2 separate regions of the Homo sapiens genome follow, and region 1 is reported to be linked to region 2. The links are microRNA targets in miRTarBase. Many come from high-throughput screens and were not tested one by one. Region 2 holds a microRNA gene; the other region holds the end of a gene's coding sequence.

Region 1 (7,118 bases), not on the chromosome of region 2:
AGTATAGAAATGAAATTTATGATGTCTTTTCTCACTTGATTTATAATACCCAAATTAAATATGGTGGTTTTATGAAAGTTGATAGTTTTCCTATTTAAAAATATTGACTGTTACAAAATCCCATTTAAAAAATTTGATTTCATACAGAATGGGAAAGAGAAGAACTTGATAAAAAGCAAAAAGAAAAGGCATCTTTACTGGAAAGAGAAGAAAAGCCAGAGTGGGAAACTGGAAGGTACCAACTAGGAATGTATCCAATTCAGAATATGGATAAATTGCAAGGAGAGGAAGAAGAAAGACTGAAGAGAGAAATGCTACTTGCTAAACTGAATGAAATTGACAGAGAACTCCAAGATTCTCGAAATCTAAAATACCCTGTTTTGCCATTGTTACCTGATTTTGAATCAAAACTACACTCCCCAGAGAGAAGCCCCAAAACATACAGGTTCTCTGAATCCTCAGAGAGATTATTTAATGGGCATCATTTGCAAGACATCAGTTTCTCAACTCCAAAAGGAGAAGGTCAGAATTCAGGAAATGTTAGAAGTCCAGCCTCCCCTAATGAGTTCGCATTTGGTAGCTACGTGCCTTCGTTTGCAAAAACATCAGAGAGGTCAAATCCATTTAGTCAAAAAAGTAGTTTTTTGGATTTCCAAAGAAACAGTATGGAAAAACTTAGTAAAGATGGTGTAGATTTAATTACAAGAAAAGAGAAAAAAGCTAATTTGATGGAACAGTTATTTGGTGCCAGTGGTAGCAGCACCATTTCCTCCAAAAGCAGTGACCCAAATTCTGTGGCTTCCAGTAAAGGAGACATTGACCCTCTAAATTTTCTCCCTGGGAATAAAGGCAGCAGAGATCAAGAACATGATGAAGATGAAGGCTTTTTCCTCAGTGAAGGAAGAAGTTTTAATCCAAATAGGCACCGATTAAAACATGCAGACGATAAACCAGCAGTAAAAGCAGCTGATTCTGTAGAAGATGAAATTGAAGAAGTAGCACTGAGATGACTGACTAGAGTATACATTTTTTCTAATTGTAAATATTGAAATATTTTAATACAGTATTTATTATAAACATTTAGACTTTTTAATGCTAAAATGTCCTTATTAAGGAATGATTTTTAATAGCTAAATACAATGCAGTTAAAAAGAAGTAGATCATACATACACCACATAGATAGTTTGCCAAGAATGAAGGAGGCTTTTTTGAATGAAACCAAAAATAAAAATATGTCTTGAAAAATGAAATAGATTTTAACTCTTCATCCAGTGCTATGGCAAGTTTAACTGCACTGGAGGTGGTATTCCTTTTCTACTTTTATTCCTATTTATGTATTTATTTTTAATCATATTCTCACTGTGCTAAATACAGTCTTCCCACTAATTGTTGAATGAAAATTAAGGGTGAAAGTCTGTGTTGGGAAGTGTAGCTCCGGATGGTGGAGAACCAGTGCTTCTTAGGAGCCCTTCCCTTTATGGATAGGGCCAGGGGTCCCTATCTTACGTGGCAGTCCTAAGCTACTCTTGAGTGATAGCAGTCACAACATTGGGATTTCCCATTCCTCTGAAAGTACCCACAGCTAAACACTACTCATTTCCCAATTTCAGTATTTACTGAAATCACTTACCTACAATTCTGTTAGAATATTATGTTGAGTTCGGAAGACATTTCTCTGTTTGCAAGGACAGTTAGTTGCTCTCTGTCATAGCCCGCAGAAGCTTGGCTACAGTGTAATTCCTCTCCTTGTTCTCCTACACTCTTTGTATCTCAGTGACTGGGTGTAAGATTTCATGCCAAATGCAAGGAATAGTGGAAATACATACCAACTGCAAAGAATAGAAAAACTTTATCCCAATATATTATAGAAAGATCTTCAGTTCAATTATGTCCAGAGTAATATAATTTGGCAATGTTAATGCTTTTAAGATTTGAACTTGTCCTCAAACCAAGGAGACAACAATAGTGTAATACTATTGGACTTACAGGATTAGTTTTAAAGCAACTTTGAATAGAAGTGTTTCAGACATAGGACTTCTGCCTTGTTGACTAGAGTGGATAGTTTTCTGTTTAAATGCATTGGTCTTTTGGCTGTTTGTAATTCACTTCAGCTTATAGAGAAGTTGATGACCTTGGATCATGCTGGGTATGATTGGTCTTTAAAAAGCAGTAATATACCACCAGCCCAAGGAGAAAACATTGTTAAAATGAAGAGTGGTGGAAATAGTGTGTTGGGAAGAATAAAAAATTTAGATTGGCACTTATTCTAAAGTGAGCTGTTTTTTTCAAGAATTTACTAGCATTTGCTCGTAGTATGATTTCTGACGCCAGTCATATATACTGATGAGGGGAAGGAGTTACTGTGTTATTCTGAGTTCTTATAAATGCATATTATTGAATTTCATTGCATGACTATTTGTCAAGACTTACCTGGTTAGGTCTCCAATTAAAAGATGTACCACCTGTCATCTTCTAAATTGTGTTCCTTTCATTTATTGGGAACAGAATCTCTCAAAAGTGCTAAACTATATTAAAAAGTTTTCTTAATAGATTTGTATGTCTGATATGTATAACCATTTACTATAATATGTTGCAAATCATTCTAATATATGTAAAACAATATTATTTGTAATGCAGTTATTGGTAAAATATTATGTAATGTTAATTTTGTTCCTAGCTGCTAATTTTTCTGCCAAAAGTATTCTAATTTTCAGGTTGTTTTAAAGGCTTTTAAAACTTTTTAGTTAAGTTTTTTATTCACGTCATTTAAATTAGTTTTTTGCTTTTTTTCTACCTGATAATCTCTTTAACAAGATGCAACAAGACAGAATTATTAAAATTAAACCTAAAGTTAAGTTACAGATTTAAAGGCATTATGATATTAAGCATTAAAATTGGAGATTAAAATGTACAAAACAGGGTTTTCCTTATGAACAAACCTTACAGGGTAAATTGTTTTTTTTTCTAAATGTCATTAAATTTATTTGTACTCAGAACTGTTACTAATAAAAATTAAAAATGCACTATGACTCTTTATTTAAGTGATACCTGAGGCTACTTAGAAAATATGTAATAGAAACAGGCCCTGCAGGGTTAATTTTTGTTTCATTATACCTTTTTTTATGTTGAGTATTTTTAGTTGAAGTAGATGAATTTTCTCTAAATCAGGTTAGACAGTACGCTAGTCTTATCAGATAATTATAGTTTTAATTAATCCTTTCACCCTTAATGGCTATCGTAATGGCACATATTGCTCATAATTTTTTTTTTTAAAAAAAGATGAGGGTAAAGAGGATTAAATTGAATTGTGAAATAAACACAAATTTATTCCATGGCTGACTTGCCATTTTTCTGATTATCCTCTTCCACCTCATTTTCTGAGATACTCGGCTTCTGGTATCCCCGACTAGTTGTTAGTTGGATAGAGCATGTAAATCTGCCTGATGAAAAGGGGAAGGGAAATTTGTATTATGGGATAATACGGATTTTTTTAGGATTAAAGAAGTTACCATAAATTGCAACGAATCTGCCTTAAAAAGTTTTTCCCCTTCTACACAAAACTTTCTTATGTTAAAGTCTCCTTTTATATCACTTGAAATTGCTCTCCTTTTATTTAGGAGTTTTTTGTTTGTTTGTTTCTTTTGTTTTTTGGGTGTTGTTTTTTTTTTTTTTTTTTTTTTTTTGTTTTTGAGACAGTCTCACTCCGTCGCCCAGGCTGGAGTGCAGTGGCGCAATCTTGGCTCACTGCAACCTCTGCCTCCCAGGTTCAAGCGAGTCTATTCAGGAGAATTTTAAAAAATTAACCACTAGTACTTTCTGGATGCCCTAGACTGTGTTAGATGGCAGGAGAGCGTGGAGAGTAAACCAGACAGGCCCCTGTCTTCACAAAGTGGATGAAGAGCACAGTGAGCCAGACTGCATGAGGTTCCATCCCTGCCCTCCCACTGTTCCCTGTGTGTCCTTGGACCACAGCTTGCTCAGCTGTTATTGGTCTTTAATAGTACTTCTTATGGTGGTTATGAGTAAATGAAATACTTAGGTTTATGCTTGGCAGGTGCCTGGCACATTATAAGCACTCGGTAAACATTAGCTGCTATTACCATGGCTAACTATGAGTTTCTTGTAGGGAAAAAAGAATGAACAAATAGAATACAGGTATGAATGTGTAATACATTAATGCTATACTTTGCACAAGACATAAGCAGAAAAAGCTTTTAAACCTCCAAATTATCTTAAAACCTCTGTACTAAATACATTATGTCTTTTTTATCTGCACTTAGAACTCTCCTTACTTTATTCAGTATTAAATTTGGGAGGGGAACAACACACACGGGCCTGTTGAGGGGTCGGGGATGAGGAGAAGGAGCTTAGAAGATAAGTCAGTAGGTGGGTGCAGCAAACCACCATAACACACATATACCTATGTAACAAATCTTCACATTCTTCACATGTATCCTGGAACTTAAAAGTAATAATAAATCAATAAATTTGCAGTAAGAATGATGAGTTTGTTTCCTAACCCACAGAAGAGTAAAAAAACTAAACTTTGAAAGGATTTTCTAAAGACGGGTTCAGTGACATAAGAAGGAGAGGGGAGTTAACAGCTTCACAGCAAAGAGAGAACAAAATCCAGAAACTTTCAAACCCACGGAACTTTTGGGTTGCATAATGTGATAGGTAATTCATACCTCAGCTGTCCCTTAATGTCTGTGTGTATCCTTGGATAAGTGACAACACCTCTCTGCACCTTTGTTTTCTTCTTTATAAAACAGGGCTAATTAGAGTGCCTACCTCACAGTAATCTAACCTAATTAACTCGAAATTAATACAAGAAAAACTGCTTAGAACCAGAAGCACTCGGACGTTAGCTGCTATTGTTGTTTTGGAAAGACAATAATTGTGGAGAGCAATTATTTTTGCTGAATGCCAGACATGGCAGTTGGCATTTTTATGTGCTTTATTCCTCACAAAGTTTTTCCAAATAAGTACTGTTATTCCCATTTTCAGTTACAGCTAATAGATTGTGATATATGTTATAGGTTACCCATGAGATTACACAGGTAGTAGATTACATTCAGTAGCCTCAATATGAGAAATCTAAAGAAATATTTTAGAAAGAGTTTTGTTTTAGTACTTTTTTTTTTTTTTGAGATGAAATCTCGCTCTTGTCCCCCAGGCTGGCGTGTGATGGCACGGTCTCGGCTCACTGCAACCTCTGCCTCCCGGGTTCGAGCGATTGTCCTGCCTCAGCCTCCCAAGTAGCTAGGATTACAGGCACCTGCCACCACGCCCAGCTAATTTTTTTGTGTGTTTTTAGTAGAGACAGGGTTTCACCATGTTGGCCAGGCTGGTCTCCGTCTCCTGACCTCAGGTGATCCACCTGCCTCGGCCTCCCAAAGTACTGGGATTACAGGCATGAGCCACTGTGCCCAGCCTAGACTCTTTAAGTGGTAACAGAAACCCAAATCAAACAAGCTTAAGCAAAATAAGGAAATTACTTTTGTCTCAAAACCAGAAAGCTTAATAATGTGTGGTTGGATCTGGAGGTTCGAATAATAGTACTTACTTTGTCCACTGCTGGGTCTCATTTTCAGAGAAACTTTACATTTGATAATATTGCAGTTGTTACAGTTGGTAGCCTTGAACCCACATCATTCCTTCATCTGGCATGCCCCTTCTCCCACCCCCTGCAAAAAGAAAGTCTAGTCTGGCAGAAGTCTGATTGGCCCAAGGAATGCTGTGTGCTCAGCATTAAGGTTGGTGGTCTTGTGCAGGGAAAGGATGGATCCCTACTCTTACCTACTTCATGGAATGAACAGGATTTTTGTGGAATGGAGGAGGCATGTTTCCCCTGATGAAGGAATTTTTGACATACAAAAAATATTCTTTTTTTATTAAAAATTTTAATCAAAAAATAATATGGAATAAAAATAATAGGGAATAAACATTAAAAGTTGGTTACTTGTTCAGCACTCCTTATTCCCAGGAACGAGGCATTTCTCTAATAAGATATGATGGGGTTGCACTGTGAAGTTCATTGATTATTAAAGGGTGAACGATTTATCAGCTACAGTAGGTAAGATGGATATGACATCTACATTTTAGAATTCATAGAAAGACTTAGAGACCCAAATATGTATTTTCCATACTAAATGCTACATTTTTGAGATACATATCCATATATAAGTGATTATATTCTATCTACCTCATCTAAGACAAAATAAAAATTAGAACTCAGCAGCCAGAGTAGAATAGTAAAAACACTGACTTTGGAGTCAGAAGTTGGGTTGGAGTGTTTGCCAATTGCTAATTACAACTTTTGTCAAATAATTAACTTTTCTTAACATCTTCCAGAAGTGAAATAGAGCTGATCCTATCTTACAAGATTATTGTGAAGATTAAATGACATCGTGTATTTTTGAGAGAAGAGAATAAGTAACATGATGAAGCATGTCATTAGAGGGAGATCATTATCTATTTAGCATTAATTTCTGTATCAACACCCAAAACTTTTTTTTAAAACAACAGAAGCTTGTCAGTATGGAATCTTAAAAACTACACGTGTTATCTTACCTCATAATCTACTGTCTTTGACTGAAGTGGGACTCTTCTTTACAGATCCATACGGAGGTATTCCATAGAGATGCTTTGCTGCTTTTGTGGACAAGCAGCCTGTGGCAGATGCAGTTTTACACACATAGTTTTGCTTCACCAGCCATTTCCATGAAGGGTAACAGATACAAATCAGGAACCCAGACTGTGTTCTGAAAGCAGAGCATTAGAATTCAGGATGGTCTCCCTGCCAGTAGAACTACGGGGATTCCTTAACTACCATGGCCAATGGTGACTGTCTTTCTTCTCTCTTTAACTGACCTGAATACCAAATTTCAAATTTCTGGTCCCAGTTGATATTGATCCTGGTTATGCATACTTTTTGTGTAGTCTGTAACAGGACATTATAGATGTCAGATTTTTTTTTTAACCCTGATACAAAGAACCCAAGAGTTTTTTATATAGGCAATCACAGCTACTGAAAACTAAGTACACCTAGAAAAAAAGGTTTATTTAAGGCTTTGTTTTGTTCTTCTATAAGAACTTCCCCCAGAGTCTTAAATTTA
Region 2 (7,118 bases):
ATAAAAGTTGGCACAGAGGCCAGGTGCAGTGGCTCACACCTGTAATATTAGCATGTTGGGAGGCCGAGACAGGCAGATTGCCTGAGTTCAGGAGTTCAGGACCAGCCTGGGCAAGATGGTGAAACTCCATCTCTACTAAAATAAAAAAAATCAGCTGGGCATGGTGGCAGTCACCTGTAATCCCAGCTACTGAGGAGGCTGAGACACGAGAATTGCTGGAACCCAGGAGGCGGAGGTTGCAGTGAGCCAAGATTGTGCCACTGCACCCCAGCCTGGACAACAAAGTGAAACAAAGTGAAACTCTGTCAAAAAAAAAAAAAAAAAAGTGTTGGCACAGAGTCAGGAAGTATACCTACTTAGCCATTTGGAGCTGGGAGTGGTATCTAGGAATTTCTCCTTCTAGTTTTTACCTTCTTAGTTTTACTTTATAAACAGGATTGAGACAAGAGAATCTTGTTACAGTTTTTAATTCACCAAGACCCATTGCCACATCAGGGTAATGCCACATCAGGCCCTTTTGGTATGGCCTTAGGGAATGTTTTTTTTTTTTTTGATCTGAAGTCTTGCTCTGTCGCCCAGGCTGGAGTGCAGTGGTGCGATCTCAGCTCACCGCAACCTCTGCCTCCCAGGTATAAGCGATTCTCCTGCCTCAGCCTCCTGAGTAGCTGGGATTACAGGCGTCTGCTACCATGCCTGGCTAAGTTTTGTAATTTTGGTAGAGACAGGGTTTCACCATGTTGGCCAGGCTGGAAGGATTTATTTTTAAGTAGACAATGAAGAACTTTTTAGTGATCTCAGTCAGCTTCTTTTTTTTTTTGAGGCGGTCTCACTCTTTTGTGTAGGCTGGAGTGCAGTAGCGCAATTGTAGCTCACTACAGCCTTGAACTCCCAAGCTCAAGCGATCCTCCTGCCTCAGCTTCCTGAGTAGCTGAGACTACAGGTGCATGCCACCATGCCTGGCTAATTTTTGTTTTTTTTAAGTTCTTGCAGAGACAGGGTCTCACTGTGTTGCCCAGGTTGGTCTTGAACTCCTGGCTCTAGTGATCTCCTGCCTCAGCTTCCAAAAGTGCTAGGATTACAGGCATGAGCCACTGCGCCTGGCCTCCATATTCTTATTTGTGCTCTTTCAGCTCTGTAGATGGCATCCTGTAATTCCCTCCATAGAGGCTTCTTGGTTTTTTCCCCTAAATGAATCAAATAATTCATTATAGTTTCCAAGTATCCTCTCTACCTTCCCCAAACATATTCTCCCAGTCTTCTGGTGGCTTACTAAGATCTTACCCCAAAGAGTTCTCTTACTATATACATTGTGAACAGACTTAATTCACTTATTTTTCAGGGCCCATCTCTACTAGTTTGTCCTACAAGACACACAAATAGAGAGCTTTTGCCGGGTGCGGTGGCTCACGCCTGTAATCCCAGCACTTTGGGAGGCCGAGGCGGGCGGATCACGAGGTCAGGAGATTGAGACCATCCTGGCTACAGTGAAACCCCATCCCTACTAAAAATACAAAAAATTAGCCGGGCATGGTGGCAGGTGCGTGTAGTCCCAGCTACTCGGGAGGCTGAAGCAGGAGAGCTTGAACCAGGAGGCGGAGCTTGCAGTGAGCTGAGATCGTGCCACTGCACTCCAGCCTGGGCGACAGAGCGAGACTCCGTCTCAAAAAAAAAAAAGCTCTTATCCAGAGCTGCCTTTGAAAAATATTTTTGCTTATGACTGTAATCCTGTGGAAGCTGCAGGTCACCGAGAAGGCCCACAGGGGGCAGCACTAGGAATGACTCTTTCCCTCTAGTCCTCTATGCGCTAGGGGAGAGAGTTCTTGGAGATGTTGATGCTTTTCACCAGGCTTTAGAAGCCCCTGATTGAGGCCGGGCACGGTGGCTCACGCCTGTAATCCCAGCACTTTGGGAGGCCGAGGCAGGCAGATCATGAGGTCAGGAGTTCGAGACCAGCCTGGCCAATTTGGTGAAACCCCGTCTCTACTAAAAATACAAAAATTAGCTGGGCATGGGGGTGTGTGCCTGTAGTCCCAGCTACCCGGGAGGCTGAGGCACAAGAATCACTTGAATCCGGGAGGTGGAGGTTGTAGTGAGCGGAGTTTGCTCCACTGCACTCCAGCCTGGGTGACAGAGAGAGACTGTCGCAAAAAAAAAAAAAAAAAAAAAAAAAGAAGCCCCTGAGATCAAAGATTCATTTGCAGCAGCCTAGTTGCTTGTTCTGTGGTGTTTCACCTGTCTTGAGGACAGCATTCTTGTTTTCTTGATAATAAAAACATAAATACATGAAAATCTGTCTAAGTCACCCAATCTCCCACAAAACAATCTGCCTATACATCATTTCCAAGCACGATTAGCATTTGAGGTGAAGTTCTGTTATACACTCAGGCTGTGGCTCTCTGAAAGTCAGTGCATCACAGAACTTTGTCTCGAAAGCTTTCTAGCAGCTACCCATTTTGGGAGTGGGAGGGAAGAATAGACCTTTTAAATTCTTTCAGTGTGGCCCTAAGCTGATAAGGTCTTTCTCAACAGTCAGCATTTAATGTGTTACAAGGTCAAGCCTAGTCCATTGTCCTGGAAGCCCATTTCTCAGTAGCTGGGAGTTATTTATAAACTTGCCCTTTGCAAAAACTTAAAATGAAATTACATTATCAGTAATGACTTCTGGGGCCTTTAAACTGGCTAGTTTTATGGCATAGCCCTCCCCACTCCTGAGAGGTAAAAGCCCCAGGCTGAAGTGGAACCAGCTGCAGTCAGGAGGTGGCAGGAGAAGTAAAGAAGCTGCTGGCTCCAGCTGTAGCAGAATGGAGAATTGAAGCGGCATTTAAGCGCCTGCCTAAATTCTCAGCTTTATTTAGTATGCTTCCTCCTTTGGAAGTTTGAAATGACCAGCCTTTTCTGTAATGCCTTCTTTCCCTTTTGAGAGCTCCAGTAAGCTCTATGTCAAATCTAGTCTTTATCCTTGTCCTCCTTAGCCTGTCTTTTATTCTTCCCAGGAAGATCCAATGTTTCTATTTTTGGGGTTTCTTTGATAATGTCTTCTAGGAAGCCAGTGAAAAGAACCAAGAGCAGAACCCAGGGATATGTTCTCTCTTTGCCGGTGTGGCTGTTGTAGGCACTCACACCCTGTTGGCCACAAAGGACATTGTCTGACTCTCCCAGTTGGCTGGGGGCCATTAGGGCTTTGCTTTTCTTTGGGTTCTAGGGATGCCAAACTCTATGGCTGCAAGAACCAGTTTCCTATGCCAGGTTAATGCCCAGCTTAAACTAATGGGCAGCTCTCTAAAGTTGCTGTGAATGTGGATAGAGGAACAGAGCCAAAGATTTCCAGGAAAAGGTTGTGGGAAAAAATGATTTCGTCTAAATTTTGTTCCTTTTGGACTTCTTTTCTTCCATTAAGAAAACTCATTCCCATTGTTGTCTCCCTTTTGGAATTGAGGACCCAAGTTGTTATAGAACTGAGCCTGCTTTACAGGAAGATCTTTCTGTGAGGAATTAGGAGTTAGGAGAGCTGCTTCTACTTGTGACCTTTTAAGACTAGACTCTAGAGGACTTCCCTCCACTAGGCAACAAAGTTCTTTAGTTTGAGAGAGGAGTTACTCATGCCTTGTTTATTCCAGAGTGTTATATATACAGGATGGACATCTCTAAGGAGTGTTTATCAGAGGAGGGATAAAGTTGGTAGTAATATCACCCAAAGTGGCCACATCAGAAAATCCACTTATATGTGGAGGTCTAATTATAAGTAGTCCCTTAGATGCATACTGCGTCAAGGTATTTTAACTTTATTCTCAAACTTCCTTTATTCTCTGAATTATTCACCAAATATTGAGAGTTTAGTATGTGTCAGGCATTGTTCTGGACAAATGGGACAAACCAGCGAACAAAACAAAAATTGCAGTCCTCAAGAATTCAAGTAGGGAAAGCTTATGTTCCTCATCACCTTGTTGTCAAAAGACTGGGTTCCTTTTACTTCCATTCTGAACTGCCCTCCTCTGCCCCCGCAAACAGGGTTGATTCTTTGCATGGAACCATAAACCTCCTGAAGCCTCATGAGGCAATTTATGTTTGTAGAGGCTGCAGTTTCTGGGTTCTTGGCAATGATTTTTTCCTCCTCACTCTTGGATATCTGTCAAACACATACTTTTGTGTTTGGCTCCTGTGAGGACTGTGGGTTTCTTAAATAAGGCCAGGAAAGAGGTAGCAAAGCAACAGCCTTGTCTCAGCACAAGGGATATCAATGGTAAGTAATGTTGATTAGAAAGTCAAGGAATGTAGGTCGGGCGCAGTGGCTCACACTTGCACTTTGGGAGGCCTAGGTGGGAGGATTGTTTGAGCCTAGGAGTTCAAGACCAGCCTGAACAATACAGTGACACCTTTTCTCTTAAAAAAAAAAAAAAAAAAAAGAAAGTCAAGGAATGTGAGGCTGCAAATACCTTTCATGCACACATCACTATCTCTCCACACTTTTGGTTTTTTCTATTCAATCAATTAGAGATGGGGTTTCACTCTGTCACCCAGCCTGGAGTGCAGTGGCGCAGTCCTAGCTCAGCGTGGTCTTAAACTCCTGGGCTCAAGAGATCCTATCACCTCAGCCTCCTGAGTAGCTAGGACTATAGATGCACGCCACCACACCTGGCTAATTTTTTTTATTTTTGTAGAGATGGGGGGTCTCCCTGTGTTTCCCAGGCTGGTCTTGAACTGGCCTTAAGCAATCCTCCTGCCTCAGCCTCCTGCGATTTTCCTTCTCCTAGTTAGCTGGCTCCCTTGAAGTTGCAGTGGTAGAGGAGAGCAACAGACCACCACAGGTTTTGCAAGTGATATACTTACAGTTGAAGAAGAACCATTAAGACTGAGGCCGTGATTCCTTATTTGATTCTTGGTAGTGGAAAAAAAATTACCCTCTTGCTCACTCACTCTAGGCCCCAGAGTGTTTCTCAGATAGATCATCTTCTCACTGCTTCTTAACTCCCCCAAAATTCAGGTTGGCTTTTGTCCTTGGAAGTTAAGTGGTAGTGGTTAAGGTATAGTGGAAGAATTGGAGAACATAGGAGAGTTTTTGAAGATGGCTGTTTTACTAGGCTGCATTGAGAACTGGTGTGCCTGTGCGTGTGTGTGTGTGTGTGTGTGTGTGTGTGTGTGTGTGTGTAAACGCTCTTTTCCCTCTGCTTAGTGTGTGGGTGGTTTAGGGAAGGCTTGCTTTATGCTTCTGCATTGCTACTGCATTCGGACTGCAGAAACTTCCAAGTATACTAGGACATTCAACCCTATTTTCAAATGGCTTTGTTCAGTGCCTTTTAATTAATCTGGTCACATTCTATAGCCACCTGTACATGGGAGAGCAGGAAGGGAGAGGGTAATTTGGAAAATAACTGTACCATAATATTTGGAAATAACAGCATGACCTCTCTTGATTAAGCCCCCTGTGAGTCAGAGAAACTGTTTCTCTGATGGTACTTTGGAATCCTTTGTTTAAATGCTTTCTCTGTCAATTCAGTTTACTTACCCTGGGTCTTTCTCAATGGGAAATATCAAAATCTGACCAAGTTGAGGTAAGGGACTTACAGAGGTACCTCTGTATCCCCTTGCAGCCCCAGTGGGACTAGGGGAAGGTATCTGGTTTACCAGTGGTGATGGGAGGCTTCAGGACTGAAGGTATGTTCGTATCTCTTCAGGAACCTTCCCTGTATACTGTCAAAGCCATCCTGATTCTGGACAATGATGGAGATCGACTTTTTGCCAAGGTGAGATTCCCTTTCGAATTAGTTTAGGAACAGCACAAAGGTTTATTCTGAGATTTGAATCTTGGGACTGATACCTTATTAACTTATGTTCCTCAGTAGTATAATTTTGAGAATACTTCCATCTTTTTTTTTTGAGATGGAGTTTCGCTCTTATCACCCAGGCTGGAGTGCAATGGCGTGACCTTGGCTCACTGCAGCCTCAGCCTCCCAAGTAGCTGGGATTACAGGCACGCGCTACCACCCCCGGCTAATTTTTTGTATCTTTAGTAGAGACAGGGTTTCAGCAGGTTGGCCAGACTGGTCTCAAACTCCTGACCTCATGATTCGCCCGCCTTGGCCTCCCAAAGTGTTGGGATTACAGGTGTGAGCCACCACACCCGGCCTGAATTCTTCCATCTTATCTTGCCTACTCCAGATAAAACCTGTTTTCTTTTGTCCCTTAGTTGTACTGCTGCCCTGCTTGCTGTCCTCAGACTTTGACCTCCTTTGTTGTCAGCATCAGATCAGGGAAAAGCTTTGAAACTTTGGTTCCTAACAAAGCAGTATGTAGATGCTAAGAGGCAGTCCGCCCATGTCCATCATTCCTGTCCCCTTCCCTCATACCATGTCACCCTGCCTGGGTTTTTCCAGAGAATTGTCTTGCAGTTCCAGGTTTCCATTCCTAGGTTTATAGTCACCATCAAGCTTGTTACCTCCTGACTTTCCCAGAGTGATGTTTCCAACTTTAGATCTGTTGGAAGAAAGAAGAAAGGACACCCTCTCTCCCTCCATATTCTCCCCCTCCTGTAGAAATTTCTTCTGTCCCTGGTGTATTAACTCCGGGCGAGCGTAGCATAAATCAATCAGCAGGTAGAGATTAGTTTAGAATTCACCAGCTGTTCCTCCCTGTAATTGGATGTAACTATGCAGGACACCTTTTGAAACAGTTATCCAGTTACTAAATGCCAGACCTGTCATGGGTCTTCAGCTGACTGCGACGGATTAGCCCCTAAAGAGCTAGCGATTTAGCAGCCTGCATCTCCGCCCCCTTTGCCAGGGAGAGCCTGGGAATGGGCTCAGTGGTATGCTGGATGCTTCTTTCAGCTTGCAGAAAAGAAAGCTAAGATAGATCATAGGGCAGGGTTTGCCTTTCTTTGGAGGAGGTTTTTGTAGCCTTTCCCCATTCCTCAGCTTCATACAGTGAGTGAGGGTCTATGGAAGTGTTCTGTGCTTCTAGTGTTTTTTGTGTTCTCTGGCACTGCTTCCTGACATGGGGTAGCTCCTAGGAAACACTTGATGAGAATGGTTTTAGGAGAGGTCTAGATTGCAGACAGCTGCAGAGCCTCACTGTAGGGCTGGTAGGCTTCTGCCTTCAGACAGTCTTGGAAATGTGAGGTG

The links. Region 2 holds the annotated microRNA hsa-miR-148b-3p (UCAGUGCAUCACAGAACUUUGU, at 2,404-2,425, shown strand). A microRNA usually pairs through its seed, bases 2 to 8, with sites in the 3' UTR of a target mRNA and lowers its output. Matches are read on the target gene's strand: a 7mer-m8 pairs with bases 2 to 8, a 7mer-A1 pairs with bases 2 to 7 and ends in A, and an 8mer does both.
Region 1: the mRNA of LCA5 is a reported target of hsa-miR-148b-3p. Seed matches in the 3' UTR shown: 7mer-m8 at 1,291-1,297.

Annotation. Positions count from the first base shown.
Region 1 is chr6:79,480,896-79,488,013 of GRCh38, reverse strand. LCA5 (lebercilin LCA5) reads left to right here. Exons shown (of 8, transcript NM_001122769.3): 8 at 148-3,023. The coding sequence ends at 1,010. LOC100506851 (a long non-coding RNA gene) reads right to left here. Exons shown (of 7, transcript XR_001744215.3): 7 at 3,645-6,764. Among named protein-coding and RNA genes, the nearest start is that of LCA5, 53 kb to the left of the region's middle.
Region 2 is chr12:54,334,875-54,341,992 of GRCh38, forward strand. It overlaps MIR148B (microRNA 148b), which reads left to right and starts at 2,342; the gene lies at 2,342-2,440. COPZ1 (coat protein complex I subunit zeta 1) reads left to right here. Exons shown (of 9, transcript NM_016057.3): 2 at 5,673-5,741.